Homo sapiens: one gene and its partner. The protein of the gene in region 2 purifies or fractionates together with the protein of the main gene of each other region. This does not show direct contact. Each region holds a gene or a part of one and is shown on either strand. Other genes may lie near its edges. The genes, in order: XPNPEP3 and CHGA.

What was found.
Region 1: the proteins of CHGA (region 2) and XPNPEP3 purify together in Homo sapiens (affinity purification with mass spectrometry; one large-scale study listed by BioGRID and IntAct). This does not show direct contact.

Annotation. Positions count from the first base shown.
Region 1 is NC_000022.11:40,861,011-40,864,102, reverse strand, and holds part of XPNPEP3 (xaa-Pro aminopeptidase 3), read right to left. Parts: exon of another isoform or gene 3,039-3,092; coding exon of another isoform or gene 2,109-3,038; exon of another isoform or gene 1,331-2,108; intron 1-1,330. Other genes in the region: DNAJB7 (dnaJ homolog subfamily B member 7), read left to right, coding at 2,109-3,038. UniProt on the Homo sapiens protein: Catalyzes the removal of a penultimate prolyl residue from the N-termini of peptides, such as Leu-Pro-Ala. Also shows low activity towards peptides with Ala or Ser at the P1 position.
Region 2 is NC_000014.9:92,921,650-92,925,249, forward strand, and holds the start of CHGA (chromogranin-A isoform 1 preproprotein), read left to right. Parts: upstream 1-1,500; 5' UTR 1,501-1,710; coding exon 1,711-1,756; intron 1,757-2,549; coding exon 2,550-2,596; intron 2,597-3,600.

The DNA of each region.
Region 1 (3,092 bases), on a different chromosome or scaffold from region 2:
TGGAGTAGCCATTCTTTATTCCTTTACTTTCTTAATAAACTTGCTTTTACTTTACTCTGTGGATTCCACTGAAATTCTTTCTTGCACGAGATCCAAGAACCATCTCTTGGGGTCTGGATTGGGACCCCTTTCCGGTAACAGCAGGTTCTCAGTATCTGTTTGTGGAATGCCTAGAACCTAAACTCTTTAAGTCCTAGTCCGAGAAATGCAGTAGAGTGGAATGAGAACTTGAAATTAGACTCAAGTTTAAAAATCAGATTTTTCACTAACAAGCTATGTAGCCTTAGACAAATTACTTTCTCTCTCAGAACGTCTGTTTTCTTATGGGCATAAAATATTTATTTTGCTAGAGTGCTGTGTCAGTTAAATGAGCACTTGCTACAGTGTGACTCAGAGGGTACTCAAATAATTTTCGACATTATTGGTTATTATTTCCAGTGGTAGGCAAATTATAATCATGGGTAAGCCACACATAAGTACATGTAAGCACATACACTGGAGAGAATTTAAATTGAGTTTTAAGCATTTCACAATACCTCTAAAAAATGAGTATATATAAAAATGCAAAGCAAAAAAATATTCAGACCTGACAAATGGTCTTGAAAGACTAGAAGCATACACTACAGTTTTAGATTTCATTAGCGTATCATTTAACTGAGGGGTTATAAATGTGATGGAAAATAAAATAAACACAACATAGAGGAGGAAAAACAAAGATTACAGGGAATTTTCTCAGACAATAAAATGAGCCAGGTATAGAATATAAGACCTTTAAATTCGGGTCTAGACTACTGGTAGTTTATCCCCAAAGAAAATCACCTTTGGTCTGTTTCTAATTTGGCTCTCGAATTCTACTTTCCCATACATGACTGAATTTCCAAATAGTAGCCACTGATCCATTACAAATGTAAATCACATCATTAAACTTGCATATTCCCCACTCCCCACAAAGGCTTCCCACTGTACTTGAAATAAGTGCTAGCTTTATGTCCAACAGCCCCAACTGGCAACAACCAAAATGTCCATCAACATGGCCAGTGGCTACCATATTAGATCACTATGTGGCTGACTGTCATATAGGTCTCAGCAATAATGTCATCTCCTCAGAAGCCTTCTAAAACCAATCTAAAGTAGCGCTCTGCCCCCAGCACATTGCTATTTTTTTTGGAGCACATATCGCATTATCTTAAATTATTTTATTTGTTCTCCTATTTGTATTCTATTATAATGCAAGCACCAGGAAAACTGGTGTCTTTTGTTCAATACTGCTATCACCAGTGGCTAAAACGGTGCCTGGCACAAAGTAGACAATCAATAATTATACAGTGAATACATAAACACACAACTTTCCAAATCTTTAATTACATGTTTTACAGCAGTAAACCTTGGGTGGACAAAGATACTATAATCTCAAATGACTTACCACTGGCATGCAGAAAGTTAACATATCAGGCTACTTCCTCCAAGAGGCTTTCATTGACACCCCCAGCCTGAGCTGTCTCTCATATAATTGTTTAGCATCCAGTACTTCCTCTCATCATAACTATTATATTGTAACTAAGTTACTTGTTTGTATCTCCCTCTGAACTGTTTCTTGACTGAAATAAATATGTCAACTGTTTGAATACTTTCTTCACCCGTAAGTCAGTACTTCATTTTTCTAAACCAAAGCATAGAAGAGCTGGGAAGCAATTAAGGCGCAGTAATCTAGAGGTCATATTATGCAAGGGATATGCTGTGGCTATTAGCAACAGATTCCATTGGCTTATGAGGCACTGCCTGAAGCTTCCAGGGAAACATACAGGGGAAACAGTCCAGAGGATTCAGGATGGTCTGGTACGACTCTGGACTAGCTCTATTTGGAAGGTCCAGTCCCTACACTGACCCCAGAATGACACCATAATGCAGCCCTCTCTGACATATTTGTAACTCTGCTTGCCACATAATCAGTATCCTCATCTCTTAGCACATGGTAATAACATTGTCTTTAACATAAAAGTGTACCTATTTGCAGTCACTACCTCTATCACCACCACCAGCAGAGCCTGAGCTGAGGAAACCACGGTTCTCAATACCCAGCACACCCACTTCCAACTATCTGTTAAAACATGGTGGATTACTATGAAGTTCTAGGACTGCAAAGATATGCTTCACCTGAGGACATTAAAAAAGCTTATCATAAAGTGGCACTTAAATGGCACCCTGATAAAAATCCAGAAAATAAAGAAGAAGCAGAGAGAAAATTCAAAGAAGTAGCTGAGGCATACGAGGTATTATCAAATGATGAGAAACGGGACATTTATGATAAATATGGCACAGAAGGATTAAACGGAGGTGGAAGTCATTTTGATGATGAATGTGAGTACGGCTTCACATTCCATAAGCCAGATGATGTTTTTAAAGAAATTTTTCATGAAAGGGATCCATTTTCTTTTCACTTCTTTGAAGACTCGCTTGAGGACCTGTTAAATCGTCCAGGAAGCTCCTATGGAAACAGAAACAGAGATGCAGGATACTTTTTCTCCACTGCCAGTGAATATCCAATTTTTGAGAAATTTTCTTCATATGATACAGGATATACATCACAGGGTTCATTGGGGCATGAAGGCCTTACTTCTTTCTCTTCCCTGGCTTTTGATAATAGTGGGATGGACAACTACATATCTGTTACAACTTCAGACAAAATCGTTAATGGCAGAAATATTAATACAAAGAAAATTATTGAAAGTGATCAAGAAAGAGAAGCTGAAGATAATGGAGAGTTGACATTTTTTCTTGTAAATAGTGTGGCCAATGAAGAGGGCTTTGCAAAAGAATGCAGCTGGAGAACACAGTCATTCAACAACTATTCACCAAATTCTCACAGCTCCAAACATGTATCTCAATATACTTTCGTGGACAATGATGAGGGAGGTATATCTTGGGTTACCAGCAACAGAGATCCCCCTATTTTCTCAGCAGGAGTCAAAGAGGGTGGTAAGAGGAAAAAAAAGAAGCGTAAAGAGGTGCAAAAGAAGTCTACCAAAAGGAATTGTTAAATTGACTCTTCAAATATATAACATTTGAACACAATTGTGTGTGTTTTGGTTAAT
Region 2 (3,600 bases):
AACTGCTGGGATTACAGGTGTAAACCACTGCGCCCAGCTGACCCACCCTATTTAAGTATAACCCCACCCTGTCTCAGCACAGCCGTCCCCTTCCGTGCTGACAAACTGTGGGTGTTACTTCTTATTCATTGTCTGTCTTCACCATCTAGAATGTAGGGCTTCTGTCTGTTCTGTTTAATGCTGTACCCTCAACTGTGTACTGTTCTAGGATGTTCTAAGCACATAGTAGGTGCTTAGCAAAGCAAATATGTAAATTCATGAATGTGGCCATTTCAGTCTCCTTTGAGCTCCCACCAGGTTCTCATTTAGGGACAGGCGTGAGCACAGGTGTGGGAAAGGAAGTATTAGTAGAAAACAGCAGCCGCAGATGGAGAGGGGTGGGCAGGAAGGAGGGGCTCTGGACGATGCCAGCCAATGACAAACCGTCACCCAGATCCCAGGTTCCCTGTGACAGTGGGGTCAGGTGGCAAAGAGCTTCCAACACGGCCCCCAGAGCTGGAGCCCAAAGAGCTGGAGCATCAGGGGCCCCAGAAATAAGGGAAGCCAACCAGGAAACTGACCTTTTACACAAAATATCCAGGTTTTGAGAATGCTCAGGAAGAGGTGAGAGCTGTTCTCAAATTCAGATGGGCTGCCAGTGGCAAGAAGGTGATGCTAAGGGGTTGCACTAGGGCTAATGGGTAGGTGTTGCAAGGACTCCTATTTTGGCGGATGTAATAAGAACTGGCCCCCACTCCTCCCTCTACCTAACAAGAGGTGTCCAACAGTGGCTTAAGCTTCCTGGTGAAAGTGAGCCCCTGGTTCCCGTGTGTATGCAGAGCCCAGGATTCACTCACCCATGGCTTGAACCTTTAATGGATACATTCATCAGTTACCTGTCAAGTGCGTTTCCTCTGTGCCAGATTGTGTGGCGCTCAGCACTGTGAAAGTAATGATGACTAAACATTATTCAAATAAATACACATTCAACAACAAAGTGTGAAGGCACAAAACTAGCTTGCCAGAGAGAGAGAAGCCTCACTCAGACAGGGGATCAAAGGCCCCTCTAGAGCCTCCTAGATATTGGAGAGAGCCATGAGTGATGGGCATGCCTCCAGCCTGTGAGACCGGGGGAGCATACCCCAGGCAGAGGGCACTTAGGAAAAATAGCACGGGGTGCTAGCGCTGCCAGGGACCTCAGTACACATGGAAGAAGGCAAGGTCCAGAGATCCGAGTGACTTGCCCAGGGACACAAGGCAAATCGGTGGAATCGTCGAGGGGTGGAGGATCAGCCACAGCCCCCCGCCTCCCACGCCACCTCTTGGAAACCAGATACCCGCCTCGCGGCCAAGACCCACCAGCTCCAAGCGGCGGAGGCCAGAGGTAGCGAGGGGTGAGGTTAGAGGTGGGGGCGAGCGGGGACTGGACACCTGGGGAGTGGGGAAAGGGGAAGGGGGCGGCACCGCTGACGTCATTTCCGGGGTCGGGGTATATAAGCGGGGCGCGAGGGCGCTGCTGCTGCCACCGCTCCTGCCACTGCAGTGCTCGAGCCCCGTGCAGGGGAGCTTGCGGGAGGATCGACCGACAGACGGACGCACGCCGAGGCACTGCGCCCCCAGCCCCGCGCCGGTGCCACCGCAGCCCGACCCCGGCCGCCAGTCCAGCCGCCCCTCGCCCGGTGCCTAGGTGCCCGGCCCCACACCGCCAGCTGCTCGGCGCCCGGGTCCGCCATGCGCTCCGCCGCTGTCCTGGCTCTTCTGCTCTGCGCCGGGCAAGGTGAGCGAGCGCGGGGAGCTCGCGGGAGAGGGTTCCGGGCGCCCCTGCCCACCTTGAGGTCCGGGCACCGCGCGGCGCCCCGCACCCCTCCACACTTCCCTTCGGGCGCGGCGAGTTTTCAGCACCGCGGACAGCGCCTCCGCCTCCCGCCTGACCCTGCAGTGTGGCCTCCGCCTGGGACCCACAAGACACTTGGGCCTGACTCCCAACCCCCCGGGGCAACTCCCCCTTGTGCCCACCCCTTGTCTGGGCTTGGCGCCTCGGTTGCATCAGGGCCAGTGCCGGTTGCGCGGTGGCCGGCCAAGGTCACTGCGGGGAGGTGGGAGCATGGCTGCTCGCAACCCTCCACCCCTCTTCCCCTTTCATCTCACGCTCCCCGCCTTTCTGCCCTTGACTTCTACTTCTCCATATCATCCCTCACAATCCCCTTCCTCCATCTCTTCCCCCGCCCCCCCCACCTCTGGGGTCTCTCTCCCCTTCGTCTGTCTCCCACCCGTCCCACTGTGCAGCTCTTGGCCTTGTTTGATGGCGCTCCCCGCTCCAAAGCACACCCGCTCCAGAGCAAGAGTTTCCAAAGGGGGAGGGGGAGGACCTCTCAGTGCAGCCTCTGGGGACCACCCCACTGTGGGCAGCAACCAGGGAAGGGAAACAAAATCAGCCCTAGCCTCTCTTTTTGGTGGGGGCAGTTTTGAGGGGTGGCATTGGGTGAACGGGCCCCAGTGAGCCCGGTCAGAAAGGACTGGCCTCCACTTGGAGCAGAGGAGTGACCCCAGCACTCTCTTCTTCTTCCCAGTCACTGCGCTCCCTGTGAACAGCCCTATGAATAAAGGGGATACCGAGGTAAGAAGGGGTGCTGGGGATGAGGGGTAGGAGGCTCCAGTGGACACTTCACAGCCAGTTCTTGGGCAGCTGCAGGAGTAAGTTCGGCATAAAGCCAAGAGCCAGCACTGCGGCTGCTGAGCCTGGGGACAGCTTGCAAAAGAAGATATCAAAGATTGCTTGCTTTCCCTGCTGTCCTGCTGTGGGGACTTCCCCAGCTTCCTCTGAGCTGCACATGCAGCGGAAGAGGCCTGCATCTTACCTGCTGGGCCGAGGTGCCTGGCTTCAGGCTGTCTTGAACACTCTGAATCCAGTAGGCTCCCCAGGGGCTGGTGGGGGTGGCTTCTCTGTAGTTGTAGTTGTCCACAGACCTGTAAAAATGGCCTTTGCCTGCCTGGCTCTGGCCTCCCCGCTTTGCTCTTTCTCCCTGAAAGGCTCTGCCAGTAACAACCCACACCCAGCAGGCTCTCCAGCCCTGGCTGTCCCAAAGGAACACAAGCAAAACATCTTGATCATGGCTCCTGCACCCACGGTCCCACCAATAGGGGCTAGTTGTGGAGGTCACCCAGGAAAGGGCCTTAGGAGACACTAGTAGGGGTTTCTCTGGCAGCAAGAGACACACCACGCTGGGTGTGTACTTGGAATTCATTCATGGCTGAGCTGGGGCTGTTTTTTCCAGGCTCTAGTGCTCATCCAAATCTCTGACTTGAGGGTCAGAGAAATTTCTACTCCCCACCTTCCCAGAAACTATTCTCTTCCACTAGACACCACAGTTAAAATCCAAACCATCCAAGAGATTCCAACCTCTGTTTGCTCAATTATATTTCCTATGTTTTAGTTGCAGATAGGACAGAATTTAAACCTCTACCACTCATTCTAGCTGTGTGACCTTGGGAAAATTCCTTAATTTCTCTGAGCTCCGCCTTTTTCTCCTTTTCCTTGAGGGGAGGTGTAAAGAGTAGGAATCATGGATGTGAATTGCCTAGCACATAATAGGTCCTCAGTAAATGGGCACTTTTATTCCT